Homo sapiens: one gene and its partners. The protein of the gene in region 1 purifies or fractionates together with the protein of each later gene. This does not show direct contact. Each region holds a gene or a part of one and is shown in the gene's direction. Other genes may lie near its edges.

Evidence for each region.
Region 2: the proteins of CERK (region 1) and PRRC2B purify together in Homo sapiens (affinity purification with mass spectrometry; one large-scale study listed by BioGRID and IntAct). This does not show direct contact.
Region 3: the proteins of CERK (region 1) and TAF13 purify together in Homo sapiens (affinity purification with mass spectrometry; one large-scale study listed by BioGRID and IntAct). This does not show direct contact.
Region 4: the proteins of CERK (region 1) and ALDH18A1 purify together in Homo sapiens (affinity purification with mass spectrometry; one large-scale study listed by BioGRID and IntAct). This does not show direct contact.
Region 5: the proteins of CERK (region 1) and SPG7 purify together in Homo sapiens (affinity purification with mass spectrometry; one large-scale study listed by BioGRID and IntAct). This does not show direct contact.
Region 6: the proteins of CERK (region 1) and ILKAP purify together in Homo sapiens (affinity purification with mass spectrometry; one large-scale study listed by BioGRID and IntAct). This does not show direct contact.
Region 7: the proteins of CERK (region 1) and HLTF purify together in Homo sapiens (affinity purification with mass spectrometry; one large-scale study listed by BioGRID and IntAct). This does not show direct contact.

What each region holds. Positions count from the first base shown.
Region 1 is NC_000022.11:46,706,962-46,711,569, reverse strand, and holds part of CERK (ceramide kinase), read left to right. Parts: intron 1-420; coding exon 421-484; intron 485-3,581; coding exon 3,582-3,727; intron 3,728-4,608. UniProt on the Homo sapiens protein: Catalyzes specifically the phosphorylation of ceramide to form ceramide 1-phosphate.
Region 2 is NC_000009.12:131,476,670-131,481,277, forward strand, and holds part of PRRC2B (protein PRRC2B), read left to right. Parts: intron 1-1,074; coding exon 1,075-1,280; intron 1,281-1,804; coding exon 1,805-1,950; intron 1,951-2,582; coding exon 2,583-2,724; intron 2,725-4,608.
Region 3 is NC_000001.11:109,069,504-109,074,111, reverse strand, and holds part of TAF13 (transcription initiation factor TFIID subunit 13), read left to right. Parts: intron 1-4,608. UniProt on the Homo sapiens protein: The TFIID basal transcription factor complex plays a major role in the initiation of RNA polymerase II (Pol II)-dependent transcription.
Region 4 is NC_000010.11:95,646,379-95,650,986, reverse strand, and holds part of ALDH18A1 (delta-1-pyrroline-5-carboxylate synthase), read left to right. Parts: intron 1-4,608. UniProt on the Homo sapiens protein: Bifunctional enzyme that converts glutamate to glutamate 5-semialdehyde, an intermediate in the biosynthesis of proline, ornithine and arginine.
Region 5 is NC_000016.10:89,552,321-89,555,860, forward strand, and holds part of SPG7 (mitochondrial inner membrane m-AAA protease component paraplegin isoform 1 precursor), read left to right. Parts: intron 1-658; coding exon 659-815; intron 816-1,473; coding exon 1,474-1,640; intron 1,641-2,165; coding exon 2,166-2,243; intron 2,244-3,540. UniProt on the Homo sapiens protein: Catalytic component of the m-AAA protease, a protease that plays a key role in proteostasis of inner mitochondrial membrane proteins, and which is essential for axonal and neuron development.
Region 6 is NC_000002.12:238,189,458-238,194,065, reverse strand, and holds part of ILKAP (integrin-linked kinase-associated serine/threonine phosphatase 2C), read left to right. Parts: intron 1-4,093; coding exon 4,094-4,213; intron 4,214-4,608. UniProt on the Homo sapiens protein: Protein phosphatase that may play a role in regulation of cell cycle progression via dephosphorylation of its substrates whose appropriate phosphorylation states might be crucial for cell proliferation.
Region 7 is NC_000003.12:149,031,731-149,035,291, reverse strand, and holds part of HLTF (helicase-like transcription factor), read left to right. Parts: intron 1-293; coding exon 294-374; intron 375-2,919; coding exon 2,920-3,072; 3' UTR 3,073-3,561. UniProt on the Homo sapiens protein: Has both helicase and E3 ubiquitin ligase activities. Possesses intrinsic ATP-dependent nucleosome-remodeling activity; This activity may be required for transcriptional activation or repression of specific target promoters.

The sequences.
Region 1 (4,608 bases):
GCCTGTTGTGGGGTGGGGGGACTTTCAATAGAAGTTTACATCAGGTATAGAGACTGCACTAACATCTTCTTACTACACTTTGGTATAGTGTACAATTTTGGAAGTAACTTGTATAATAAGGAAAAATTATAAAAGAGACGTAATCTCTTTCAAAGAAATTATTATTTGCCGGCAATTAAATACCAGGAACGCTGCATGTCATCGCGCAGACTGTGGCCCGAGAGAGGTTCATGTTCACGTTCCCTGAGGTCAGCTTGATCCCGTCCCATAAGAGCGATGTAGAATTGAAGAGGGAATTTTATCTAGGAAATCCGCCTGAAGGTGTTACAGGAACTCATTTTAAAAGAATGGATGATTTGCCTTTTACGTGAGGACTCACAGATGTGAATATAAACTGTGTGATGTAATTTTTCCCCACAGTTACTGAACATGCTAATCAGGCCAAGGAGACTCTGTATGAGATTAACATAGACAAATACGACGGGTGAGTAAGCCGTCTTTCATCGCCATCAAGTCCATTGTTAATGAAAAAGTTCTACCCACCTCTCAGTTTTGAGAGCTCCTTTTCCTAAATCCGCCCCCCGCCTCCACCCACGACCAATTGTAAAAGTAAACATGCTTCTTACAGGAAGGCAAGAAAGAAAAGGCAGAAAAGTGCAGTCACACACTCCTCTCTGGCTGGGCTGGGCGAGAATGGTTGTTTGCTGGTTCTGTTCCCTTTCGGTCTTTCAGAAGATGTGCTTATGCGGTGCTGTGTAGACAGAGAAGCAAATCAACCAAGCACATTATCAAGAATGTTTAGATGCTGTCGTTTTTACAGTTTGGGATTCTTCTTTTCCCCAAAATTCCTAGAGATTTCCCAGAACTACTATTTTTAATGCCCATATCATGGTCCATTATGTGGGCATGCCATATTTATTTAGCCTCTCACTTGTAGATGTTCAGGCTCTTTCCAATTTTTGCTCTTAGGATAGCATTGTTGTACATAAATCTCTCTGCATACATCTACATTTTTAAGGTAAATTCCTAGAAATGAAATTAGTCATAGGAGATTAACATTTTAAAATCTCTGCCGTGTACAGCCATATTGCTTTCGAAAGAGATTCTATTAACTTACATTCTTTTTTTTTTTTTTCGTTTTTGAGGCAGAGTTTCGCTCTTGTTGCCCAGGCTGGAGTGCAATGGCGTGACCTCGGCAGCTTCGGCCTCCCAAGTCCAAATGATTCTCCTGCCTCAACCTCCCGAGTAGCTGGGATTATAGGTGCCCAACACCACGCCCAGCTAATTTTTGTGTTTTTAGTAGAGACAGGATTTCGCCATGTTGGCCAGGCTGGTCTCGAACTCCTGACCTCAGGTGATCCACGCGACCCGCCTCAGCCTCCCAAAGTGCTGGGATTACAGGCATGAGCCACCGCGCCCGGCCAGTTTACATTCTTTCTTATAGTATATTATTTACTGTCTTTGTCAACATGTTTGGTATTATCAGTATAAAATTTCTCTGCTAATTTGACATGTGAAAGTCTCTAATATTTTAAGAAATATGTTTATTGGCTAGCTGGCTTCTTGGAATTGATTTTTATGTCTTTGGCCCATTTTCTTTTGTTGGCCATAATTTCAGTCATTTGTTCTCTTATCCAACAAATAATAGGCAATTCATATTTATATTCATATTTTTGCAAATATTTTTGCTAATTTTGAAATTGTCTTTTAATTTTGCTTATGGCATTAATTCTTCCCAGTAGAAGTTTTCAAATTCATGTACTCAAGTCTGTCCAGCTCTTCTGTGCTGTTCTTTATGCTTAAAATTTCACTCTTCATCTTGAGTTTAGCTATTCCCCTGTAGTTAATTGCCTTGTCATTGGTTGGCTTTTTGTTTTCTTCTCTCTGTTCCATCTGGAGTCGGTGAGCAATGTGTTATAAATTGCAGCGGATATTTATTGAAATCATTATTCATTCCACAAACATTATTGAGGGTCCTCCAGGTCCCAGCACTCTGCTGGTGCTAAGGTTAGAAAGGGAAATAAAAGGAGCCCCTGCCCCCAGGTGCTGACAGGGAGACCCCTTTGCTCCCCTCCTAATGCGGGAGTGTTCTGTTCATGGGCTCCAGGAAGCAGGGGGCTCCTCCATGCACATCTCCCCAACTCCACCCGATGGCAGCTCCTCCATGTACTTCTTCCCACCACCTCCACCCGACAGCAGCTTGGCAGGAAGACAGTCGTCTTCACTTTTCAGCAGGGATGGGGCTGGCACCTTATTGCACCCACCCTAGCCAAGGGATCAGCCTCGCCTCTTGAGGGCACGCCTTCTCCCCAAACCCAGGGACATGCCGTGCAGGAGGCTGGGAGGCCTGGCCAGTGAGGGCTGCTCTTCCTGCGGCTGAGCTGTCTGTCTGAGTGATCTGTCTGTCTAACACACAGATGCTACACTGCCCATTCAAGGATGCCCTGTCCTCGAAACCACAGCCCCGCTGGGAAGGCTGCCCCGGTGCAAGGTGTAGGCTACGGGGAAGGGCAAAGAGCCTTCCCATGGGAGCCGGGCCCAAAGCAGGTGGCCTGAGTGGTGGGTGGTGGGCAGAGATCCCAGCCCTGGAGACTGGTCGCGCCTGCACAGACAGACCCACTGGGGAATGGGCAGGCACCTTGATGCTGTCATGCTTGAGGGAGGCCCCTCAGGCTGCACCCCCTAGTCGACTCACACCGCTCCTCTACCGGCGGACCTTCCCCCTGCAACCCTCTCTTCCCGGGTGATGAGAGCTCTTGGGCTGCCGTAGGCTATAGAGATGTCCAGGAAACCTGAGCCCTGTCCTCTGCCTTCCCTCTGGGCTGCAGTGACATGTCTGTCTCCATGCCTGCACCTCTCATTCTGCCACCTCAGTGTTGGTTCCCTGTGGGTTACCCCCGGCATAGGACAGCACACCCTGAAACCAACCCGTCCTTTCTCCCTTCAGCCACTGTCCCCTTTCTCCATCTCCTCTCCTTAGATTGTCTCATGCCCCATTTTGTCCGCATTTATTCCGTCCCCTCTGCTCTTGCCTTGGGTCCTCAAGACCACCCACACGGCTGGTGATTTGCTGCCTGAGCTAGAGTCGTGCTCTCGGCTGAGATTTCTGACGGGACAGAGCAAGGCTGCACAGCCAGCTTAGCAAAGGAGAAACGTCCCCGCGCAGACTGCTGTGCCTCTCCCGCAGTGCGGGTCACCTGGAGTGCACCCTCTCTGCTCCCACAAATGCAGCAGCACAGGTGTACTCTTCCCGCCCCGCAAACTTGAGTCCTGAGACCCAGAGTGTAGTGTTTTTGAGGGGGTACAGGCATGCAGGCATTCTCTGCCTAGCCACCCAAATTCCAGACTCACAGAAGGAAAGCCAGTATTTGCCATCAATCTCATTATTTGTACACGTGGTCTAGGCCAACTGGCACAGAGGCACGACCTTATCACTTAGGGACATTTCAGGAGCCGCACTTCTAGATGCCTGCCAAGGGCCAGGTGTGCAGGCTGCCCCTCCTGAAGCTGGAAGCCTCAGGCCTGCTGCGCTCAGAGGGCCGCACCTGCAGGAGCCCTGACCGGCTGTGTTCCTCCTGCAGCATCGTCTGTGTCGGCGGAGATGGTATGTTCAGCGAGGTGCTGCACGGTCTGATTGGGAGGACGCAGAGGAGCGCCGGGGTCGACCAGAACCACCCCCGGGCTGTGCTGGTCCCCAGTAGCCTCCGGATTGGAATCATTCCCGCAGGTATGGAGCCGGCCTGGCATTCTCTGTTCTCTTCGTTCCCGTCCTTAGGAATTGTTCTGCACAAGTAGCCACCTCGGACACTTAATAACCCAATTATACTCAGTTTAGTTCGTACAGATTTCCTAACATTAGGGCCACTCTTGGGGGGATATCATTGAGAGTATGACCCCAATGAAATAGACACTCGTGGAAAGGAAAGTTGCCCGACTCCCCCAAAGGCTGCTTCACGCAAGGCAGGAGAACCCCACCGCTGGGGGTGCAGTCCTGGAGTGGGGAACCCCCGGTGCCCGGGAGCAGGTGGGTAGGTTGGCAGGGGGTGCGTTCTGGAAGAAGTGGCTTCTGGACCTGAAGGAACCGGGAGTTAGGGGTGGGTGTGGGCAGGAATCGGGCTGGGGAGTTGGGAGGAGACTGAGTGGGAAAGGTGGGGGCGGAACCAAGGGCAGGACCTAGCCGAGCCCGGGAACAGCTGGGCTGTGTCCTGAAGTGCTGGTTCGGCTTGGTCCATTCAACATCCTTCTAGGAACCACCTTGTTCTTTGAAAAATCACAGTGTTAAGCTAAGTCAAGCTGAGGGCCTGAGCGTGGTGTGTTGCAGGCTTTGCAAATGACCTGGCAGGGGACGAGGTGTCTGTCCTCTCTGGCCCTGTGTCTGGCCCCGAGGGTGGCGGCATGGTGCACACTTTCACTCTCGTCACAGCTCTGGGATGTGAGCACCGCAGTCATCCCCATTTTATGGATGAAGACAGGAGGACTGGGGGTGAGGTCACAGGTCACCGGATGGGAGCGAGAGTTGGAGGTTTAGAGGCCACCTTGCCTCAAAGCAAGGGAAAGGCTAGCCCTCACGAGGGACAGGCCCTGAGCCACCTTCTCTGTGGGTGCCGC
Region 2 (4,608 bases), on another chromosome or scaffold:
ATTGCCTGCCCCCACATTGCCTGTCTGCTTCTCGTGGTGGTGTTATTGTGGCTAGAGCTCCCACCCCCACCCCCACCCCAGTGGTGCTCTTGAGGCCACTGTCCAGCACCTGACCTGAGAGTCCAGTCATGTGTCCCTGGAGCCCCGCCGAGGGGCCGCTGCAGCGAGGAACGTTGCCTGTGCACAGTGCCAGGTGCCGGTCAGTCCACCAGAGTCCTCTGCTCCGGAGTTGCTGCCAGGCGGCGTCCTAGGGGGCATCGCTGGCCTCGTGGCTGCATGGAAGTGGCTCTTCCTAGATGGTTCTGCTTCTCCACTGTGAGGAGACGTGGCCCCACGGTGGGGTTGCCACCTCAGCATGGCAGGAGCCCAGCAAACGCAGAGGGGAGCAGGCTGCACATGGTCTGGCGAGCACCTCTTCCACAGCCAGAGGCATTCGGGTGATGACCTCTGCTCAGGGACCAGGAGAGGGTCCCCTGCACAGTCTGGGTTGACTGACTGCACTTGGCTTGTGCCTCGGACAGGGAGGTGCAGGGGCTGCTGAGGCCTTCCCTGTCCTCAGCATACTGAGGAAGATGGCTTCACACCTCCACTCTCCTTAGAATTCAAGGCAGAGAAACTCCCAGAGAAGGAGCCACAGGGAACACCGACTCTTTCAGGTGGCATCTAATCCAGCTTTCCAGGCGCCAGAGGCTGACCCTTGGCTTCACCTCAGTTTTCTGCCCCAAGGGCCCTCCGGCAGGGCAGTCCTGGAGAGGAGCAGAAATGCTGGCGTCTCCATTCTGAGCATATTCCCCTTGTCTCTCTCCCCCCTACACTCTGAACATAGCATGTGGGAGAGCCCTGGGGAGCCACTTTCCCCAGGAGCAGGCAGAGCCGGTGGGGGCAGCCTTACACGTATGTTTGCACACGGACATGGATGCACTGTGGCCAGCCTGCCGCTCCTCCCCACCCGAGGAGTCAGCTAGAGGAAGTGGGCCTAGATCAGGGTGCCGGGCTTGTGTGCAGGCTGTGTGCACGTGCGGTGTTTTCCCTCCTTCCCCAGCTCTGGTTAACAAGATCCTCTTTCCCTTACAGATCCCCAGACGAGGCCTTGCCTGGAGGTCTTAGTGGCTGCAGCAGTGGGAGTGGCCACTCCCCCTATGCCCTGGAGCGGGCAGCCCATGCCAGTGCTGACCTTCCCGAAGCCTCCAGTAAAAAGGCAGAGAAGGAGGCCAAGTTGGCTGCTCCGAGGGCAGGTGAACAGGGAGAGGCCATGAAACAGTTTGACCTGAACTATGGAAGTAAGTCATCCTCATATCTTCAGGGGAAAGAACTCAGGCAGAACCAGGGGCCATGCAGTCCTCGGGCCTCCCGAGTTTGCCCTTGCACTGAGTACCTTAGCTTTCGGAACAGCTCGGCCAGGCCCTGGGCTGGGTTCTGGGGCTGTAGAGGTGAGCAGAGTAGGTAGGATTCCCACCGAGTGTTGCTCACAGCCCGTTGAATCCCCGTGACACCCTGCAGCTTCCGGGCTTTAAAGAGAGGAAGCCTGGGGCCCAGAGACGTTCGGTGGTGTGTCCGAGGTCACACACAGCTGTAGGAGCAGAGCTGGGGTTTAAGCTCTTTGCGTGTTCTCTCAGTTGTGCCCTTGGGCCTCTTTGGTTTGGGGTAACAATGTGTTAGATCAGAGGCGGCCTGAGAAAAGTGCGGAAGTCCTGTCCAGGTTTCTGTCGAGCCTGATGCTAGATCTCAGGCGCCTGTTGAATTGGGTTGTTCTTGTCTCCTGGTGAGTGGAAAGACTGTTCCTTCTCGTGAAATCTTGGTTCAGGTGCCATCATTGAAAATTGCGGGTCCAGCCCCGGGGAGGAGAGTGAGGTGGGTTCTATGGTGGGCGAAGGCTTCATCGAAGTCCTGACCAAGAAGCAGCGCCGCCTGCTGGAGGAAGAGAGAAGAAAGAAGGAGCAGGCCGTGCAGGTGAGGGGCGGAGGGTGGGGGGGCATGGGGCTGGAGGGCAGGCTGGCAGATGCCCAGGAAACCCAGAGCCAGAGGGTAAGGGAGTTCTCGGTCAAGCTCAAGGTGGCAGAGAGGAAGAAAGGAGTATTTAGCAAGCACACATTGTCTCCCCGTTCCTGCTATTACCAAGGCCCTTCTATCAATGTAGGAATAGGTGGTGGCATCACTGTTATGCAGTGGAAGAAACCGAGTCTTGAAGAGGGTGACTTCTCTAGGGTGATAACAGTGGAAACTTGTCCAAGGCAAGATGCAGACCTCCGTCACCTCCCAGCTTCTCCTTCCTCCCCACTCCTCATTCCTGAGTGGAATGAGATTTGTCTCCCTCAAGTCAAGTGGATCGTGAACGCTATACTAAAATGGAGTCAGGGCTGGACCTGCACACAGATTACAGTCCGTTGGCCTTTCAGGTCTTTCTTGGGGGGTGCTTTGCTTGGCATCGCAGTTCTGCTTGAGGTTTTGGGAGACGAGCGTTCCACACATCTCTGGAGCATTTTCAGGTGGTGTGATTTTTGGTACCTGGGATACTTATCCTGGGGAGAATTTGTCAGTCTTGGTGCCTTTGGCTAGACTACAGCATCCTTTCTTCCCCTCAGGTGCCTGTCAAAGGTCGAGGCCTTTCCTCCCGTATTCCTCCTCGATTTGCAAAAAAGCAGAACAACTTATGTCTGGAGCAAGGTGACGTGACCGTGCCTGGCAGCAGCCTGGGCACTGAGATCTGGGAGAGCAGCAGCCAGGGTGAGAGTTGGGGGTGTGACCCCAGCTGTGGCACCCAAGGTCACATCACACACTGGGTTTGCTTCTGGGGAGGATCCTGCTTTTGAGCTACGAATATAGATGGAATACAGATGGAGTACCTGTTTGCTGTGTTCCGCTGCTGAGCTAGTCGCTGAATGCCGTCTGAGTGATTTGCTGCTGCAACCCCCAAACGGATACACAATTTTCCTTGCCTAAAATTGGTAGAAGAGCAGAGCATTCATTAGTCTGGTGATCTGGAAAAGGATGGCCCCTTGGGCTTAGATCACACAGTAGTGGGAATGGCCTTCTTTGTTGGTCGTCGTTTTCTCCCACTAACTTATGGAAGAGAAGCAAATGACAGATAGACCAGCCGCAAGAGTTCAGGAGCTCTCTTCTGTGCTGTGCACCCTTTTCTTAACATGGGGAAGGCTCTGGAAACCCCTCCCTGAATGCTCTTCTGGAAAGGCAAACTGAGACCAGAAGACGGTATACGTTACTTCTTAGAACATTTGTTGCCCTGAAAACTTTTTTTTTTTAATTCTATATCAAATGTAATTTTTCTGGGAATTTTTCCTTATAAAATAGAAAACTATTTTCATAGAATAGGTTCTTCTTGAGGTTTAGGTGAGGCAGGGCCCTGCGCTGTTAGCCCAGAGCATGCATAGATGAATAAAAACATGGACATTCGATATTTCACAGCTCAGGCCCATGAGGGGAGCTTGGAGAGGTCACCTAGTGCCAGCTCATTTTTCTGCAAAGCAGCTGAAGCTTCTAGAGGGAAGGGACTTGACTCAGGGACTCCAGGGTCATAGGACAAGCACCCGAGACACTGAGTTCTGGGCCTTGATTCTTTCACTGTTTCCACATAGCTTGTCCTCATGTGCTCGGTGAAAACTTTGGTTCTTGCAAACTACAAAATAACATTCAACATGCCCAGCTTTGATGGAAAGGAAGCACAACCATTTGATAAAACATCAATAACACTACATTTGGTAGTGGCTGAGTGACAGGTGTCATAGTATTGGTGTCCAAAAATGCCCAGGTGCCAGATTGGTTGAGCTGCCAGGTGTGAATCAGATGTGACTCTCAGGTGTGAGTCATCATCCCCTTTTGTCAGATCTTTTACTCCAGAATTCTGCAGGGGCTCATTGGTTTCTCAGACCAGGGGTTGTGTCCAAGGGATGGCTTCAGAGAGCCCTTGGATATTAAAATAGCATGTGAAAGGATTTTTTTTTTTTTTAAAGATGGGGTCTCACTATGTTGCCCAGGCTGGACTTGAACCCCTGGGTTCAAGCAATCCTTCTGCCTCAGCCTCCTGAGTAGCTGGGATTGCAGATATGTGCCCCCACCCCCTGCTAGCATGTCAACTTTTGCATGCATATCTATTTTTCTGGGCTCCGGATCCATGGCCATTCAAAAAGTGGTCTGTGAGCTTAAAAATTTTTAGTAATACCCGCTGGGATCTTTCAAAGACTCTGTAGAAGCCACCAACTTTGGCCAGGAGTGGTGGCTCACACCTATAATCCCAGCAGTTTGGGAGGCCAAGGCTTGAAGATCACTTGAGATCAGGAGTTCAAGACCAGCAACAGAGTGAGACCCTGTCTCTATTGTTTAAAAAAAAAAGAAGGCCAGGCCTGGTGGCTCACGTCTGTAATCCCACCACTTTGGGAGGCTGAGGCAGGCAGATCACCAGGTCAGGAGATCGAGACCATCCTGGCTAACATGGTGAAACCCCGTCGCTCCTAAAAATACAACAACAACAAAAAATTAGCCGGGCGTGGTGGCGGGCACCTATAGTCCCAGCTATTCGGGAGGCTGAGGCAGGAGAATGGCGTGAACCCGGGAGGCAGAGCTTGGCAGTGAGTGGAGATCGCGCCACTGCAC
Region 3 (4,608 bases), on another chromosome or scaffold:
GTCATCATGGCCCGTTCTCAATGAACTGTTGGGTACACCTCCCAGACAGGGTGGCGGCAGGGCAGAGGGGCTCCTTACTTCCCAGATGCGGGCGGCCTGGCGGAGGCGCTCCTCAGTTCCCAGACGGGGTCGTGGCCGGGCAGAGGCGCTCCTCACCTCCCAGACGGGGTGGCGGCCGGGCAGCGGTGCTCCTCACCTCCCAGACGGAGTAGCGGCCGAGCAGAGGCGCTCCTCACATCCCAGACGGGGCGGCCGGGCAGAGGTGCTTCCCCACATCCCAGGGGATGGGCAGCCAGGCAGAGACGCTCCTCAATTCCTAGACGGGGTGGCAGCCGGGCAGAGGCTGCAATCTCAGCACTTTGGGAGGCCAAGGCAGGCAGCTGGGAGGTGGAGGTTGTAGCGAGCCGAGATCACGCCACTGCACTCCAGCCTGGGCAGCATTGAGCACTGAGTGAGCGAGACTCCGTCTGGAATCCCGGCACCTCGGGAGGCCGAGGCGGGCAGATCACTCGAGGTCAGGAGCGGAGACCAGCCCGGCCAACACGGCGAAACCCCGTCTCCACCAAAAAATACAAAAACCAGTCAGGCGTGGCGGCGCACGCCTGTAGTCAGGCAGGGAGGCTGCAACGATCCCAGATCGCTGCAGTACAGTCCAGCCTCGGCAACAGAGGGAGACGGTGGAAAGCGGGAGACGCAGACGAGGGGGAGGGGGAGGGAGAGCTTTTTTTGTATTTTTTGTAGAGACGGGGTTTCACTGTGTTAGCCAGGATGATCTCGATCTCCTGACCTTGTGATCCGCCTGCCTCGGCCTCCCAAAGTGCTGGGATTACAGGCGTGAGCCACTGCACCCGGCCTATAAATTGCTTTTTAAGTGAGCAAATGTAATTAGTGTTTTAATTTAGGGCAGAAGAACATACCTCCATTAGTTTTCCTCTTGCCTTTACAGCAGTAGAGAGGCTTCTTTGACTGTAAGCCACAGGTAATAATGGATCCTGCAACAGGTGTTGAGGGAGAGTAGCAAGTGAGTTGGGGCTTGGGCTTTGGACTAAGGCCCTGAACAAAGTAAGAAGGTGGTGAACAGCTGGGTGCAGTGGCTCACGTCTGTAATCCCAGCACTTTGGGAGACTGAGGCGGGTGGATCACTGGAGGTCAGGAGTTCGAGACCAGCCTGGCCAACATGATGAAACCCCGTCTCTACTAAAAATACAAAAATTAACCAGACGTGCTCGCTTGAACCCAGGTGGCAGAAGTTTCAGTGAGCCAAGATTGCGCCACTGCACTCTAGCCTGGGTGACACAGCAAGACTCTGTCTTAAAAAAAAAAAAAAAAAAGGTGGTGAATCGTGTAAGGCATTATAGTGACATGGAGGCTAGATGCAGTGGCTCACGCCTGTAATCCCAGCACTTCGGGAGGTCAAGGCAGGCGGACTGCTTGAGCCCAGGAGGTCAAGACCAGCCTGGGCAACATAGTGAAACCCTCTCTCTACAAAAAATACAAAAATTAGCAGGGCATGGTGGCATGCCCCTGTAGTTCCAGCTACTCTGGAGGCTGAGGTGAGAGGATGGCTTGAGCCCAGGAGGTGGAGGTTGCAGTGAGCCCAGATTGCACCACTGCACTCCAGCCTTGGTGACGAAACCAGACCCTGTGTCCAAAATAAATAAACAAATAAAATAAACAATAACATGGAGATTATAATGTATTGATTCTCCATCCTACCCCCTCAGTAGACGGTTTTGACCCTTTTTGGCAACACGAGGAAGGGAGAGCTGCTACTAATACTGATGATCCAGGCCAAGCCCTGGAACACAGCATGAAAATGTGCTCTCCATCTCCCAGTCCTGGGTCCTTTATGTAAAGTTATGTCTAAGTATTGAGAGATGAGGCCGCACAGATTTATGAATATGATTTATTTAGGCTGGGTTATATGTGAGCAGTTCCCAAATGCCCTTGAAACTACAGGGTCAGTATATATATATATATATATATATATGTGTGTATATATATATATATATATATATATATATATATGTGTGTGTATATATATATATATATATATATATGTGTGTGTATATATATATATATATATATATGTGTGTGTATATATATATATATATATATATATATATATATGTGTGTATATATATATATATATATTTTCTTTTTGAGACAGAGTCTCACTGTTGTCAGTCTGGAGTGTAATGGCGCAATCTTGGCTCACTGCAGCCTCTGCCTCCTGGGCTCAAGCGACTCTCCTGCTTCAGCCTCCTGAGTAGCTGGGACTACAGGCACATGCCACGACGCCTAGCTAATTTTGGTATTGTTAGTAGAGACAGGGTTTCATCATGTTGGCCAGGATGGTCTTGATCTCTTGACCTCATGATCCGCCGTCTCAGCCTCCCAAAGTGCTGGGATTACAAGCATGAACCACCGTGCCCAGCTTCAGCGTCAGTGTATCTTTTTTAAGAAAAATTATTTTCTTAATTTTTATTTATTTTCTTAGAGACAGGGTCTCACTCTTCTGTCACTGGGGCTGGAGTACAGTGGCATGATCATAGCTCACTGCAACCTTTAACTCTTGGTGTCAAGTGATCCTCCCACCTCAGCCTCCTGAATAGCTGGGACTATAGGTGCATGCCACCATGCCCAGCTAATTTTTTTTTTTTTTTTTCCTGAGATGGAGCCTTGCTCTGTCACCCAGGCTGGAGTGCAGTGGCGTGATCTCGGCTCACTGCAACCTCCACCTCCCAGGTTTAAGCAATTCTCCTGCCTCAGCCTCCCAAGTAGCTGGGATTACAGGTGTGTGCCACCATGCCCGGCTAATTTTTTGTATTTTTAGTAGAAACGGGTTTCACCATGTTAGCCAGGCTGGTGTTGAACTCCTGACCTCAGGTGATCCACCCCACTCGGCCTCCCAAAGTGCTGGAATTACAGGCGTGAGCCACCGTGCCTGGCCACACCCAACTAATTTTTGTATTTTCAGTAAAGACAAGTTTCACCATGTTGGCCAGACTGGTCTCAAACTCCTAGGCTTAAGTGATCCTCCTGCCTCAGCCTCCCAAAGTGCTAGGATTACAGGCATGAGCCGCCAGACACTGTTTTATTTTTTAAACATCCAAATCCTTTTCCATATTTTGTTTCCTCACTAATGCTGACCATTTCTTATTTCATTTCTCTGATGCTCCTTATACCATTATGTGGTTTTTACTTATTAGGTCAGCATAAGAAGGGGATCCTTGTACCAGAGCATCCCAGAGTGATGTTCAGTCGGTTGTTAGCAAAGACCTTTGTTCCACTGAGATTACTTTGTGATGACAGGAATTTGTAATCTTCAGGCTTCTCCTTATCTTACCTGAATATTCATAGAAGTTACTGACGAAAGATCTATTCTCCTGAACCTTTAAAAAAAAAATTTGGGGGGGACTGGGTACGGTGGCTCATGCCTGTAATCCCAGCACTTTGGGAGGCCAAGGTGGGAGGATCACTTGAGGTCAGGAGTTCAAGACCAGCCTGGCCAACATGGCGAAACCCCGTCTCTAATAAAAATACAAAAATTAGCTCGGCGTGGTGGTGCATGCCTATAATTCCACTACTCAAGGGCCGGGCACGGTGGCTCATGCCTATAATCCCAGCACTTTGGGAGGCTGAGATGGGCGGATCATGAGGTCAGCAGATCCAGACCAGCCTGGCCAACATGTTGAAAACCCATCTCTACTAAAAATAGAAAAATTAGCTGGGCGTGGTGGCCTGCACCTGTAGTCCCAGCTACTTGAGAGGCAGAGGCAGGAGAATCGCTTGAACCCGGGAGGCAGAGGTTGCAGTGAGCCGAGATCACACCACTGAACTCCAGCCTGGTGACAGAGAGAGACTCCGTCTCAAAAAATAAAAATAAAAAAAGAAAGCGTCAAGGTTTTGAAAGATGAAAAAGTCAAGGAACTATCGGATTCGAGGGAACTAAGGAGGCATGACAACTAAATAGTATGGGAACCTGAAACAGAAAAAGGACATTGGTGGAAAAACTTGTAAAATCTGAATGAAGTCTGTACCTGTACCGATGTTAATTTCTTAGCTTTGATGACTCCCTATGGTTGTATAACATGTTAACATAAGGGGAAGCTGGATATAGGGCATATGGGAACCCTGTACTATTTTTGCAACTCAGCTGTAAATCTAAAATTATCTTTTTTTTAAAAAGGCAAAAAAAAGTACAGAATCCAAAACAGAACGATAGGAACTATTGGCTCCTGTGTTTGTTTTTTTACTCCTGTTTCTGGACCTAAAGACTCTTGCCAGTGTAAAACCCTAGGGATATGTCTATCTCAGGCTGGTTTCCAAGTCACCCTTTTCTTCTGTAGGCCTGGTCTACTTTCTTCTCTTTGTACTTCTACTAGTTTTTACTTCTTCTAAATAGAGGAATTATTCTTAATTTACTCATTTCTTCCTTTAGAAGTATTCTATGAGTATCTTTTTTAAAAAAAAAAACTTAGGTACAATAAATTGTGCAAGTCTTAAGTGAACAGCTTGCTGAATTTTATGTATGCTATACAGTCGGCTCTCTATGTCATGGGTTCTGCATCCATGGATTCAACCAACCTCAGATGGAAAATATTC
Region 4 (4,608 bases), on another chromosome or scaffold:
AGTTTTTGTATTTTTAGTAGAAACAGGGTTTTACCATGTTGGCCAGGCTGGTGTCAAACTCCTGACCTCAAGTGATCCCCCCACCTCAGCCTCCCAAAGTCCTGGGATTATAGGCATGAGCCTCCACACCTGGCCTTCAGCTCAGTTTGAATTGGAAAGTTGTTTTTTTTTTAAACTATTGAATTTTGAGAATTCTCTATATCTTCCTGTCTTAGTCCATTTTTATTGCTATAAAGGAATATCTGAGGCTGGGTAATGTATAAAGAAAAGAGGTTTATTTGTCATGGTTCTGCAGGCTGCACAAAAAGCATGGCACCAAAAACTGCATTGGGTGAATGCCTCAGGCTGCTTCTGCTCTTGGAAGAGGATGAAGGGGAGCTGTTGTGTGCAAAATCAGATGGCCAGAGAGGAAGCAAGAGAGAGAAAAGAAAGGGCCAGGCTCTTTTTAACAACCATGTCTCATGGGAACTAAGAGTGAGGACTCATGCATTCCCTCTGAGACTGGCACCAGGCTGTTCATCAGGGATCTGCCCCCGTAATTCAAACACTTCCTACCAGGCCCCACCTCCAACACTGGGGATCAGATTTCAACCTGAGACTTGGAAGGGCCAAACCATATCCAAACCATAGCACTTCCAGGTATTAGTCCTTTGTTGGATAGGTGGTTTGCAAATGTTTTCTCCCAGTCTCATAGCTTGTCATTTTATTCTCTTAAGAGGGTCTTTCATATAGGAAAAGTTTTTCTTTTGATGACGTCAAATTTATCAGCTTTTGTTTTTATGGATTGTACTTTTGGGGTCAAGTCTAAGAACTCTTTGTATAACCCCGTATTCTGAAGATTTTCTCGTATGTTTTTTTCCCGAAAGTTCGATAGTTTTATATTTTATACTTAAATCCATGATCCATTTTTTTTTTGTTTTCTTGAGACAAGATCTTGCTCTGTTGTTACCCAGGGCTAGAGCATAGTGGCACGATCAAGGCTCACTGCAGCCTCAACCTCCAGGGCTCAAGTGATCCTCCTATGTCAGCCTCCCAGGTAGCTAGGACTATGGGTTGCACCACCACAGCTGGCTAATTTTTTTCTTTGTTTTTTTTTTTTATTTTTTGAGACAGGGTGTCACTCTGTCACCCAGGCTAGAGAGCAGTGGTGCAATCATTACTCACTGCAGCCTCAACGTCCCAGGCTCAAGCGATTCTCCTGCCTCAGCCTCCCAAGTAGCTGGGACTATAGGCGTGCACCACCATATCCAGCTAATTTTTATATTTTTTGTTGAGACAGGGTTTTGCCATGTTGCCCAGTCTTGGCACATTTAATTTTTTAAAAAGTTTTTTGGTTGGGCCTGATGGCTCACGCCTGTAATCCCAGCACTTTGGGAGGCCGAGGTGGGCAGATCACGAGGTCAGGATATCGAGACCATCCTGACTAACACAGTGAAACCCCGTCTGTACTAAAAAACACAAAAAATTAGCCGGGTGTGGTGGCAGGTGCCTGTAGTCCCAGCTGCTTGGGAGGCTGAGGCAGGAGAATGGCATTAACCCGGGAGGAGGAGCTTGCAGTGAGCCAAGATAGCGCCACTGCACTCTAGCCTGGGTGACAGAGTGAGACTCCGTTTCAAAAAAAAAAAAAAAAAAAAATCTGTAAAAATGGAGTCTATGTTGCTCTGGCTGGTCTCGAACTTCTGGGCTCAAAAGATCCTCCCACCTTGACCTCCCAACCTGCAGGAATTACAGGTGTGAGCCACTGCACCCAACTTCGTGATCTATTTTGAGTTAATTTTTGTATAAGGTGTGAGGTTTAGGTCAATGTTCATCTTTCAACTTTTAATACTAGTTGTTCCAGCATCATTTGTTGAAAGGCTGTTTGTGATGTTTTGAGTTGGCTAGCTCCTTGATATCACCTAAATCTTATCAGTAGTCCATTTCCAAGCTTCATTGCAAGATGACTTGCCAATCAACTAATCAAGCTTGTCATTAGACAGAAAAATCTCTTTCCTATTAATGTAGAGTATAAGGGCTGAAAGTTCAGGTTTTGGAACCAGTTCCTGGGTTTTTAAAACTAGCCCTTCTGCTTATGAAGTAACTTCGTAGCTTAAAACAACTGTCTGTTTAGGTCACAATTCTGTGGGATGGTATTTTGGACTGGGCTCAGCTGCACAGTGGTTCTGTGTCTGTGTCAGGTCTCAGATTGACTTAGGGCTGATTGTTGGGGATGAAGGGGCCTCTGCTGGGATGATACATCATGTACATTCCCTGTGGCTTCTCATTCTCCAGCAGGCTGTTCATTGCTGCTTTGCATGATGCTTGCAGGGTCCCCAGAACAGGAAGCATGGTAGCTACAAGTCCTCTTGAGATGTAAACTCAGAATTTATGCACTGTTCCTTCTGCCACATTTGTCAAAGCAAGTTACGGGGCCAGCTCAAATTTAAGAAGTTTGGAAGATTGACTCACCTGTTAATGGAGAAGCTGCAAAAGGATTGTGGCCATTTTTGTAATCTGGCAATGCTGGTAAATTACTCAGTTACTCTGAGCATCAGTTTCCTTATTTATAAAATGGGGATAATAATAATAATGAACTCATAATAATACCTAACTTATGAGGCTTAATTCATGAGAATTCAGTAAGATGATGATGATGATGATGATGATGATGATGATGATGATGATGAAGGTAGAATATGGAAAAGCTCAAACTATTTTTCCTCTGCTCTCACTCCATAACAACAATCAACACAGAAGACTTCTGTGACCAAATGTACGGGGTTGCAGTGGACATCAGTTGGGTATCCTCCAATTCAATTCTGACACTGTCTCCCTGAGGACAGCCCACAGGTTGAGGGCTCAGTCCCTCAAGATCATCCCCATCTTCCTAGTAGTCCTGAGTCCAGGCTTCTGGAACTTCTGACTGACTGGCTTCAAGTTGGGGTTCCCACAGTACCCTCTTTGGGCTTGATTGATTTGCTAGAGTGATGCAGAGAACTCAGGGAAACACTTAGATTTACCAATTTATTACAAAGGAAACAGATGAAGAGATATGTAGGGTGAGGTGTGTGGTAAGAGGCACAGATCTTCCATGCCCTTCCGGGGCACGCCACCCTCCAGGAACCTCCACATGTTCAGCCATCTGGAAGCTCTCCGAACCTTGTCCCCTTGGACCTCTTATGGAGACTTATTGGATAGGCATGATTGAAGCATGGGCAACTGTGTCGAAATGTGATTGAACAAAAAGAATGTGACCTGATACTAATAGACTGAGTGGGGTAACCCAGCAAGGCCTGTCTGTTCAGATTTTGTCTTGGTCTTCCTGTGCAATATTTCTTCCTCCAAGGTATGGGGCAGGACCCTCTCTGGACTGAGGGTCTTACAACCCACAATCAAATTAGAGTCCTGCCTTGAGTAGGTGAAAGGAGTTCAGGAGAATACCAGAGAGATTCTGTTTCCTTACACCAACATTATAACAAAAGACTGTAAAAAGGATTATTAGAGTTATAAGCCAGGGACCATGGATATATATGTCATGTCACAGTAAGTAACACTTTTTTTACAGTACCAGTTAATATTCATTGAGTATTTTGTGCCAATCTCTGTTCATGCATGAACTTGTTTTATCCACCCTACCAACCTTATGAGATAGTTAAGGAGACAGCAAGTAAGTGAAGGGGTTGAAATTTCACTCAGGCAGTCTGGCTCCAGAGCCAACACTTGTCCTTTTTACTCCTGTAGAAGGTGTATGAATACTTAGCACAACTCCTGGTATATAGTAAGTGTTCACTTCAGTATTTTTATTGATACTTATCCTCATTAGACTCATTCACAGAAGGAGGCACTTTCTAATTGTTTCCCTAGGTTTTTGAATTTGGGGATTTGGATTTTTCTGGAACGTGGAGCTCTTTCACTGACCATGATAAGCAGAATAGCAGAGGGAAAAAAAAAGAAAAGAAAGGCAAAATGAGAACGCTTGTGGAGATAAACAGAGAAGGCAATGGAAGGCCAGAGAGAAAAAGAGTAGTCATGTCTGGGTCCCTTCTTGTTGAGGCCTGGAACACAGCCTCATTGGTTACTGGGCATAAGGATTCTGATGCTGAAGAAGTAAAGGGTTCTCCTCTGTCAGAGTGGTAAGAGTATAATCCGTGGCCCTTAAGAAGAACATGGACAACCCCTCCCATCCCCCACCATGCCACATCTGTACACACATACACTTCAGTATGCCCTCATACCTACTAAGAGGGGACAGATTTTCTTTGGAACTTAGAGCCTAAAAGTTCCTTAGAAGATGGGAAACAATTATTTCTCTAGAAGCCTTGAATTTTCCTAACTAATCAAGGCCTTCTCAGTTTTCAATATGGACCCTAACAAGTATAATACATTGTAGAACATTAAAAAAATACCCCCAAGAAAGGTAGGGTCAGCCTTGGAAGGTAAAAGGCGTTGTTCAATAGGAAACCCAACAAGCCCTGAGTCCCCTGAAGCTCTCCTTTGTGCTAGAACCTACTGGATTTGACTGAGTCAACTGCATGAAACCTTGTTGTTAGTGGTGACCTCCTCTTGAACCCTAACAGGCCTTATCTACTGCTGTTACCCTATTGTCTCCAGCCAGAATGACCCTTGACT
Region 5 (3,540 bases), on another chromosome or scaffold:
AAAGTACCGAGATCACAGATGTGAGCGACCCCGCCCAGCCTAGTTTTAGATTTTAAATTAAGCGTCCTCGGGATTCTCAGAGCACTTGGATGTGGCCATCTCGCCGCCACAATTCTCAGAAGCAGCAGCTGGGCCAGCCCCTGCCCCGTCTCCGTCCGTCTCCCACTCAGCGGTTCCGTGTTGTCGAGTTAGCTCGTTGCCCCGCGCCACCTCCTTGCACACCTGATGTGGGGCTGTGGGGGAGCAGCAGAGGTGAGGACAGCCTCTGCTGCCTCAGCATCGTGGGGTTCTCATTGCTCTGAACCCTCAGTAGCTGTCGCTGGTGTGAGGGGTCAGCGCAGCGGCCATCGGGGGTGAAACTTGTCCTTCGCCTCTCAGCTGTCTTCTACGGGCCTTGTCTTCTTGACTCCCTGCCTGTCTAGTCATGTATGAGAAGACACTTCCCGGCAGTGTGTGAACAGGCACCTGTGGTGGGAACGCTGCTGTCTCTGGGCTGGCCATCTAGAGTGTTAGGATCCCCTGTTGTTGTAGAGGATGCTGCACATTTGCCTTCCTGCTTTGAGACGCTTTAATGACGGAGACCTCTTAGTCCCACACCTTCCTCCTCAAAGCCCACGCATCCTGCCTACTGACCTGGGTCATCTTGACCTTGTGCCAGGTCTCCATAACCCCTCGGACAAACGCCGCCCTGGGCTTTGCTCAGATGCTCCCCAGAGACCAGCACCTCTTCACCAAGGAGCAGCTGTTTGAGCGGATGTGCATGGCCCTGGGAGGACGGGCCTCGGAAGCACTGTCCTTCAACGAGGTCACTTCTGGTGAGGAGCAGCGGCGCGGGCCCTGGAGGTTTCAGAGCGCTTTTCCCTGCATGACTCCTTCTGTTCCAGTGCATGCCATGGGGTGAATCTGGTGTAGACGTAGCTTTGAATTTATTAAGTATTTTGTAAAAGATAAGTTGTGGTCATAAGAGAGTTGGAGCTAAGCAAGACTTCTTAGATAATTTAATTGGACAAAAACTTAACCTATATGCCAACTCTAGACACATTTAATTGGTTAATTGTTGGTAATGGCTACAGGAAACGGAATAAAATTGAAGCGGCTTCATTGTTCTGAAGCCATTACTGCACTGGGATATCCAGAGAGCTGAAGGAGGGTCCCGGGGGCCCCTGGGCTCCAGGTCCATGGGTTTGCCTCGCATAGGCCTGGGCTTGTGCTTGAGAACTGCCATGCAGTGAGCTCCAGTATGCCCCCGGGTTCTAGATTTCCAAATAAAAGAGCATTTCGGAAAGTTTTAAGACTCTCTTAAGGAACAGTGGTGAGGTGCCAACGTCCTCACTGTCCAGCTTCACGGTGGGTCCTCGGGAGGAAGGGGATGGAGGTGGTGCTGCCTCAGTGCTCTGACCGGGACACCTGGGGCCCAGCACTGCTCTGCGCCTGCAGTGCTGAGGATGCCTCTGTCTCGACCCCGCCCTCCAGGGGCACAGGACGACCTGAGGAAGGTCACCCGCATCGCCTACTCCATGGTGAAGCAGTTTGGGATGGCACCTGGCATCGGGCCCATCTCCTTCCCTGAGGCGCAGGAGGGCCTCATGGGCATCGGGCGGCGCCCCTTCAGCCAAGGCCTGCAGCAGATGATGGACCATGTGAGTCGGCTCTGGCCACACCGCTGCCCTCTGTGCTCCCCGGGGAGGGAGTCCCTGGGTCTACCACACAAGGGTCGCCCACGGCCGCCCCAGCGGAGCTCAGCTGCAGGCCCCACCTGGGTTTCTTCCTTCTGGGCTCTGCTGTAGTTCCCACCTGTGGAGTATTTTCTTCTCAAATGAGGACATAGATGCTCCTAATGAAATTATAGATGTGAATCTGGGAAGAATATCAAATAAATACACCGAGCAATAGACCCAGGGCCCACATGTCCTTCAGACTGGGCCAGGAAGGGCCGATGTGTGCCTGTGAGGCAGCTGTGGGTGGGTGTGGGTGGGTGGGCTGGCATGCGGAGCCCTGCTTTCCTGGCACTGGTCACAGGGGCAGGAGACCACCTGTCGGCTGAGGAGTCCTGTTCCTCCTGGGAGGGGAAAGGCCGTGTTCCCAGTCTGCCATTTCTTTTCTGTGCTTTGGTGCTGGAGCCAGGCGGCCAGCCTTGCCCCTGACACAGTTCCCTCCACTCACAGGAAGCAAGACTGCTGGTGGCCAAGGCCTACAGACACACCGAGAAGGTGCTGCAGGACAACCTGGACAAGTTGCAGGCGGTGAGGCCCTGGCCAGGCGTGGGGGCTACGGCGTCACACAGTGTCCACACAGCACCCACGGTCCCCACCCCTCTCGTGAAGTATTTCCAAGGCACACAGAGTACAGAGAACACTCTGACCGATGTGAATTCTACCCAGCTCAACTGAAACTTACGTGTTCCATACTTTTTATCCTGAACTCGTCAAGTGTGTTCCCCCGAGGTAGAAAGAAGGCTGCCACAGTCTCCTGTGCCTCTTCCTGCCATTAGCAATTACCAATGTTTTGTCAGTTTTGTTTAATCTTTTCCCAAGTCTTACACTTTTTTCTTGAACATTTTTTTAAAACAAAGCTTTAATTTTAGAGTAGGAATTTTTTTTTCTTTTTTTTTTTGAGACAAAGTCTTGCTCTGTCACCCAGGCTGGAGTGCGATGGCGACATCTTGGCTCACTGCAACCTCTGCCTCCCGGGTTCCAGTGATTCTCCTGCCTCAGCCTCCCGAGTAGCTGCGACTGCAGGCATGCACCAACACACTCGGCTTTTCTTTTTTTTTTTTTTTTGAGATGGAGTCTCTCTCTGTCACGAGGCTGGAGTGCAGTGGTGCAATCTCAGCTTACTGCCACCTCCACCTCCCCAGTTCAAGCATTCTCCTGTCTCAGCCTCCCAAGTGTCTGGGATTACAGGCACGCGTCACCATGCCCAGCTAATTTTTGTATTTTTAGTAGAGGTGGGGTTTTACCACATTGGCCAGGCTGGTCTTGAACTCCTGACCTCAGGTGATCCGCCTGCCTCGGCCTCCCCAAGTGTTGGGATTACAGGCGTGAGCCACAGCCCCACGCTGATTATAGTGTTAGATGTAGAAAAGTTGCAGGCGCGGTGCAGAGAGCTCCCTGCCACCCTGCCTCGCTCCCGTGGAGGCCCCCATGGGGCAGTCCTCCCACCTGAGGAGCCCCCGCCGACCCGCGGTGTTGGGTCCACACGTGATTCAGATGTGCTGAGTCTCCCCAGTGTCCTTTCCGGTCTTGGGAGTCCACATGGCGTTTGATCGCCCATCTTCTTAGGCTCCTCTGGGGTGACAGTTCCTCAGACCTCCCTTGTTTTGAGGGCTCTGGCAGTTTTGAGGATTGGTCTCATGTTTTGTAGGACGTTCCTCAGTTGCGATTGTCTGATGTGTTTCTCACAGTGGGCAGAGCTGGAGTGAACGTTTTTGTCCCTGGGTTTGGTAACTGCTGCTTAGAACTCAGGAGAGGTGCACGGCTCTTTGTCCCATGTTGTGAACAGATGGGTAGGCAGTGGATAGGTAGTTGTTTCTTCAGCCTC
Region 6 (4,608 bases), on another chromosome or scaffold:
TCAGATTGTTGGAACTGCCTTTAAGAATTAAGAGTTCACTAATTTACTCTTAACTTTGTTATTAACATTTTTTAAAAATTCAGAGTTCATTATTCCGATTTGCCTTGTTAAACAGAGTGCTTGACTCAAATGTATCGAGGCTAGTAGCATTGGCTCTACCTCCTCCTGAAAATGTTCCTTTTCATGTCCTAATTAAGTAGAAGGGAAGAATAGAGCAGATTCCTGTTGCCATTGCGGCAAAGGTATGATTCTGTCTCATGAGAACTTCTTAGGTAGAGCTCCTCTGGTTGGGGAAGGTGAGGGTTAGGAGAGGTTGGGAGATAGATGGTGTGGGGGCAGTGGGGAATGCAGGTAATCCCATTTCGTATGCAGGTATATTTTCTATATTTTAGGAAAAGTACTCCAGTCATCTTATATAAGAATTCTCAATCTTCAGGGCTGTAGACCCATACCAAAAAATTGCAGCATCCTCACACTCACAGTGTGGCCTGAAACCTTCCCAATAAAGATAGTACCCTTAGTTGTAATGAAAGTTAATATGTTCTGGCTGGGCGTGGTGGCTCACGCCTATAATCCCAGCACTTTGGGAAGCCAAGGCGGGTAGATCACTTGAGGTCAGGAGTTCAAGACCAGCCTGGCCAACATGGCGAAACCCTGTCTCTACTAAAAATACAAAAATTAGCCAGGCATGGTGGCATGTGCCTGTCGTCCCAGCTACTCAGGAGGCAGAGGCAGGAGAGTCGCTTGAACCCAGGAGGCAGAGGTTGCAGTGAGCTGAGATCACGCCATTGCACTCCAGCCTGGGTGACAGAGAAAGACTCTGTCTCCAAAAAAAAGGAAAGTTAATATGTTCAAAGAAGGCTGTTAAGGGATTTAATAGAAGAAATGAAGATACAGCATAGCTGTCTCTTATTTATCTACAGGACAAAAGGCAAAGTAGTAAAAAATTTAGAAGATTTACATAACACTATTAACAAGCTTAATTTTTTGGATATATAATCTTGGGTCTAGTGTTTTAGATTTCTAGAGAAGTTAACACATTTTTTTTTTCTTGAGACGGAGTCTCACACTCTCACCCAGGCTGGAGTGCAGTGGCACAATCTTGGCTCACTGCTACCTCCACCTCCCGGGTTTAAGCGATTCTCCTGCCTCAGCCTCCTGAGTAGTTGGGACTACAGGCGTGTGCCACCATGCCTGGCTAATTTTTGTATTTTTAGTAGAGACAGGGTTTTCCCATATTGGCCAGGCTGGTCTCGAACTCCTGACCTTGTGATCTGTCCGCCTCAGCCTCCCAAAGTGCTGAGATTACAGGCGTGAGCCACTGCACCCAGCCGATAACACATTCTTTTTTTTTTTTTCCTTTTTTGAGACTGTCTCTCTCTCTGTTGCCCAGGCTGGAGTGCAGTGGCGCGATCTCAGCTCAGTGCAAGCTCTGCCTCCCAGGTTCATGCCATTCTGCTGCCTCAGCCTCCCAAGTAGCTGGGACTACAGGCTCCCGCCACCACGCCCACCTAATTTTTTTGTATTTTTAGTAGAGATGGGGTTTCACCATGTTAGCCAGGATGGTTTCCATCTCCTGACTTCGTGATCCGCCTGCCTCGGCCTCCCAAAGTGCTGGGATGACAGGTGTGAGCGACCTTGCCCGGCCCGATAACACATTCTTAAGCGGGCAGGAACCATTTACAAAAGTTGATTATGTACTAAGCCATAAAATAAGCCTCAATGATCTGTTTCTTGTACAGACTACATTCTCAGACTACAGTGTAATTTGCTTAGAAGTCAATAACAAACCTGTAAGGTGTCTTTATTTTGAAATTTTATTATTTTTCTTTTTTTCTTTTTCTTTTTCTTTTTTTTTTTTTAAGACAGTCTCACTCTGTTGGCAGGCTGGAGTGCAGTGTTGCGATCTCAGCTCACTGCAACCTCTACTTCCCGGGTTCAAGTTCCTGTCTAAGCCTCCCGAGTAGCTGGGACTATAGGCACCTGCCACCACACCCAGCTAATTTTTTGTATTTTCAGTAGAGACGGGGTTTCACCATGTTGGCCAGGATGGTCTCAATCTCTTGACCTCATGATCCGCCTGCCTCTGCCTCCCAAAGTGCTGGGATTACAGGCATGAGCCGCTGCGCCTGGCCTTTTTCTTTTTCTTTTTTTTTTTTTTGAGATGGAGCCTTGCTCTGTTGCCTAGGCTGGAGCGCAGTGGCGAGATCTCAGCTCACTGCAGCCTCCGCCTCCTGGGTTCCAGTGAGTCTCGTGCCTCAGCCTCCCGAGTAGCTGGGATTACAGGCGCTACCATGCCCGGCTAATTTTTTGTATTTTAATTAGAGACCGGGTTTCGCCATGTTGGTCAGGCTTGTCTTGACCTTCTGACCTTAGATGATCTGCCCATCTCAGCCTCCCAAAGTGCTGGGATGACAGGTGTGAACCACCACACCTGGCCATCTGTTTTGGAATTTTAAAGGAAGAAAGTTTCACATCCATATGGGGAAAACTGGAACCCATACAGTAAGCCACAGGACACTAATGGGGACCTTTGGGAGAGATACTGTTGGAAACATCTGTGTTGCCTTATGCAGGGTGCATATGTGTATTATGTTATACTGTTGCAGAAATAGGGCCTTGTGCAACTAATTTACGCTTCTTGAGGGCAGGAACATTTTCATTACTTTTTCCTCAGCACTAAGAAATGTCTGACACAGGCGGTTCAAGACCAACCTACCCAACATGGTGAAACTCCGTCTCTACTAAAAATACAAAAATACAAAAATTAGCTGGGTGTGATGGTGCACTCCTGTAGGCTGAGACAGGAGAATTGCTTGAACCCTGGAGGTGGAGGTTGTAGTGAGCTGACGTTGCGTCACTGCACTCGAGCCTGGGCGACAGAGTAGACTCCGTCTCAAAAAAAAAAAAAAGACACCTTGTGTTTACCAAAAAAATTAAAAAATTAGCCGGGTGTAGTGGTTCCTGCTTTCAGTCCCAGCTGCTCAGGAGGCTGAGATGGAAGGATCACTTGAACACAGGAGTTGGAGGCTGCAGTAAACTGTGATCATGCCACTGCATTCTAGTCTGTGTGACAGAATGAGACCCTGTGTCAAAAACAAAAAGAAGAAGAAATGTCTGGCAAAGAGTAGGTTGAGTAAGTAAATAAGTACTTGCATCCTTTTTTTTTTTTTTTTTTTTTTTTTTTTAAAGAGAAACGTCTTACTACTTTGCCCAGGCAGGTCTCAAATGCCTGGGCTGAAGTGATCCTTCTGCCTCAGTCTCCAGAAGTAGCTGTGACTGCAGGCATGTGCCACTGCATCTGGCTGTTGCATACTTTTATACCTAAATGCAGAGAACATTTCAAGTCATTTATTAGGACAGCAGCTGCCCTTATTGGAGATTGATGTGTTAGGCACTGTGACAAATGCTCTTCCTACTTGTCCTGACCCATTTTCAAACATCCCTCTGAGATGACAGTATTCTTACCATGTTACGCACGGGTGAAGACAGCTGAGACTGAAAGATTAAGTTGCACACCTCTTTGAAACTTGACTTTTCTCATTTCAAACACATACACTGCAGATTCCCTTAGCTTTGAGTACAGATTCATCCTTTTGCTAGTGGGAACAGCTGTGGCAGCCTTATTTTGCCTTTGAAAGGATGTATTACAGTTCTTAAAGGCTGCCATTTACCTCATTTTGAGCCTTTTCGAGTACTTGTTACTTTTTGGAACGTGATTAGGATATGTTAGTTTGCTTACAGATTTTGTAAGTGTTTGTTTAACACTAAGAGCCTGTGGATATAAAAACATGTATATGCTACAGGCCAAAAAAAACCATGTATTTTTACCACTGGGAAAAGTCTTTTACAAACCCCTTCAGCAGGGTCAGTTTGACTCAGGGCCTGGATCTTAACTTTATGTTCTCTCACTGTGGGACCCCCCTCCCCCTCCCCGCCAACCATGAAGACACAACTCCTGGGTCTGCCTGTGTCTGCCAGTCCTTGCTTCAAATGACCTTGTCTTTGAGTGCTAGGATGAAGCCCAGTCTACTAGTGACTTTTTCCAACAGTCTACAGCTGTGTTTCTGTCTGGCTTTTACTTTATTTCCAGGTTCTCTTGCCACATCAATATCCCAGATGGTAAAGACTGAAGGGAAAGGAGCAAAGAGAAAAACCTCCGAGGAAGAGAAGAATGGCAGTGAAGAGCTTGTGGAAAAGAAAGTTTGTAAAGGTTTTCAGACAATTTGAAAACAAATGTATTAGACTTCATATTTTAAAACAACCCAGAGCAAAACCAGTTTCAGCTTTCTAATAATACTTTCTTTTTATGTCTGTATTTAAGAAATAAGTAGGGTTCCCTTTTTGCAAATGAATTTCCAAGTTTCTCTGTGCTTTCTCCTACTTTTCATGTACATCTATCTCTGATCCTACCTTTGATCAGATAGGAAACCTACATTTGTTCCTCAAGAGTTAAAAAATACAGGTGGTTTTTTTCTTAGCCTTCTGCAGTGAATGGTTAGTTTTTTGACCACCTAGTCTCTCTCTGACTTCCAATCTTTGTTTGCAGTTTGTCAATTAGTGCTTTGAATTACGTGATTTAGCTTAGTAGGCAGCTTCCCTAAGCCT
Region 7 (3,561 bases), on another chromosome or scaffold:
AAAATGAAAAAAAAAACCAAATTGATTAATCAACAAATACTTATTTTGGGTGCTGATACATATGTCGGGGCCTGTATTAGGTATTAGAAGTAGTAGTAGGGGGAGGATGCCTATCATCATAGTGATTGGGAGGGTGGATTTTTCCCCAGAGTATTTGTGATGTTAGTATCTGACTTCAGGCAGAAAACTTTCAGTCAGAAAAAGATGAATGAATACTAGTGAAATGAAAGGACAAATGCAAAACACTGAAAGATCAGGGCAGTAGTAAAGTAACTCATCCATGTTCTTGTTAGGCCTGGAATCCTGCTGCTGAAGATCAGTGCTTTGACAGATGCCATAGACTTGGTCAGAAGCAAGAAGTTATCATCACAAAAGTGAGTTTTTAAACAAACTATTTTAAGACTAGGTTGATACGATTTTTACAATTAAGCAAGTAATGCATGAATATATTATTATGATTGAGTGTAATTATGCAGAGCAAAATATAAGTCACCTTTTTCCTCCTTCATCAATAATTTAATATATGCTGTTTAAGGGGCCTTTCTCTGCACCTACATTTATAGTTATGTGTACATCTCCTTAAAAACATTCTTTTAAAGATAAATGGAATTATACTTTATTCTACAACATATTTGTTTCCCTTAAAACTATACATTGGAGACTACCTCATAAGTACATTTAGATGAACACTTTTTTTAAATAGTGGTAAAATACAAAATTTACCATTTTGAAGTATACAGTTTAGATGCATTAAGTACATTCATGTTGTTGTGCAACAGCCATCACAATCATCCATCTCCAGAACTTTTTCATCATCTTAAACTGAAACTGTGTATCCATTAAATAATAACTTCCCATTCCTCTCCCCCCAGCCCCTGGCAACTACCATTCTACTTTCTTTCTCTGAATTTGACTACTCTACAAAACCATATAGATATATCGTAATATATTTAACCCATTAAGTTTTTTGCTAATAAAAACAGTGCCATAATGAGCATTATTATATATAAATCTTTTCACATAGATGCAAGTAATTCTTTGGGATAAGTTAAGAAAACTAGAATTCTGGATTTAGAATTTTTATCAACTATCGAGTTGGTTTCAAAATAGGATTTATATGAAAATTGTTAATTTATGCTTCTGTGGCCAAAAAAGTGCTGTTCTAATTTGCATTTACCTAAAACCTTGAGTATATTTCACATATCTTGTTTATTAACATTTTTTCTGTGAATTATTTATATCTTCTGTCCAGTTCTCATAGTTATGGTACAAATAGTTTTATAGTATAAAGGACTCCCTGATACAGTCTGACTTGAAATCTTTTGTTTATGTATGTTGAAAATGGTTTATCCCATACTCTTCCTTGTCTTTAAACTGCATTTTTTTGGTCATGAAAAAGCTTTAAAATTTTTATGATTTAAAACGTCAGCCTTTTTTATACGTTCTAGGTTTTAAGGTCTTACCTAGGACAGAAGGCTTTATTTTCACATTTTTTCAACTATTCTGTATTTACTTCTGGTTCTTTTGGAAGATTTTATTTTTTGTTTTATGATTTGTGACATGAGTCTAAGCTTATTATTTTATCAGATGAAGAACGATTTGTTCTGTCACATCATTTTTTTTCTTTGAAAATTCCAACTTTTTCCCTACTAGTATGAAATGTCACTTTCATCATAAACTAATTTATATATATTACTTGGGTCTTTTTCTAGACTATTCTGTTCCATTGATCTCTTTTCCTTTTCTTAGGGCAGTATTACTCTTATAACAACTATGGTTTCCTAAAGTAAGTTTTGATACCTGATAGGGTAAAATGTTCTGATGACCCTTTTTGAAAATTGTATTGGTGGTTATTATTATTGCTCTTGAATTGAACTTTAGATTTTAGTTATAAAATCCCATTTAAGATATCTTGAGATTTATTGAATTTATTATTACTTTCGAGAACTATCTTTCTTTATAAGTAACGAATGTTTCCATACAGGAACATAGTATCCTTTCTCCATTTATGTAGATCTTATATGTATTTCAGTAAAATTTTATTATATAGCTTTAGTTATTGCAGTAATTGGGTCTTCTTAAACAATGTTAAATAGTAGCAGATAGTGACCATTCTTGACTTGTTTCTGTTTTGTTGTAGAATACTTTTATTGTTTCACATTAAATATGTAAGGTTGAGACATTCATTCCTAGTTGGGGTATTTTAAAATCAAGTTTTTATCAGGAATGAGATGATCACGTTTTATTTTTCTCTTTGTTAGTGTTGTGAATTATACTAAAGATTCATTCTTGAATTTCTGGGAATAGTTTTTTGTTTTTTTTTTTTTTTTTTTTGAGACGTCGCTCTGTCACCCAGGCTGGAGTGCAGTGGCGCAATGTCGGCTTACTGCAAGCTCCGCCTCCCGGGTTCACACCATTCTCCTGCCTCAGCCTCCCGAGTAGCTGGGACTACAGGCGCCCACCACCATGCCCGGCTAACTTTTTCTATTTTTTAGTAGAGATGGCATTTCACCGTGTTAGCCAGGATGGTCTCGATCTCCTGACCTCATGATCTGCCCGCCTCGGCCTCCCAAAGTGCTGGGATTACAGGTGTGAGCCACCGTGCCCGGCCAGAATGGCCTTTTTAATACAATGCTGAAGTCATTTTGCCAGAGTTGCCTATATAGTTTGCTTTTTTTTTCTTTATTGCTTTGCTTATCTTGTGATCTGTAACTTCTATTCGTACAGCCATATTCTTTATATAAGAAAACCATATTGGGTAAGGAAAGCAAAGTTCAGTTCTATTAAATAGTTATTATAGTTTGGTGCAAAAGTAATTGCGGTTTTTGCCATTAGGCAAATCTTTCATTTAGTTTTTTTAATAAAGATTTTAAATACTATGCCTTAAAAACTACTTAACTTTTTTTTTTCTTTTTAAAGTTCATTGTAAAGGACTCTGTTGAAGAAAATATGCTGAAAATACAAAACAAAAAGAGAGAACTTGCAGCAGGAGCCTTTGGAACTAAAAAACCAAATGCTGACGAAATGAAACAAGCCAAAATTAATGAAATCAGAACATTAATTGACTTATAATTTGTGGGATTTTAGTAAGGTCAGTTTGATTGGATACTTAAGTTTTAGAAATGAGAAAAATACAGAGTTTTAGAAATGAGATCTAGAGAACACGTCTTCTAAAAGGGGCATATTTTATATTAGTGAAGAGGTATTACTGACACAATTTCTTCTATATATGAACCTATTTTTAATGAAACTTCAAATAGCAATAAGTTCCGTTATATACTGTGGCCTGAAATAATTTGAGAAAAAAGGTTACTTTGTTATTCAGCTTTTCATAATATCTATGCTGAGTATTTTCACGTATCTTCCAAGTACTCAGCTTTTTCGTATTTCAAATAAGGTCAGACCTTTTATACTTTTGACCAAATAGTTATTTTCTATGTTGGACACTTAGTTATTTACCAAAGCCTCCGATTTGTGATGCAGTGTTTGTAGTCCTTGTAAACAATATATACAGACTATACAAGAATTAATTTTATTGGGCTTTCAAAAACCATATTTGCA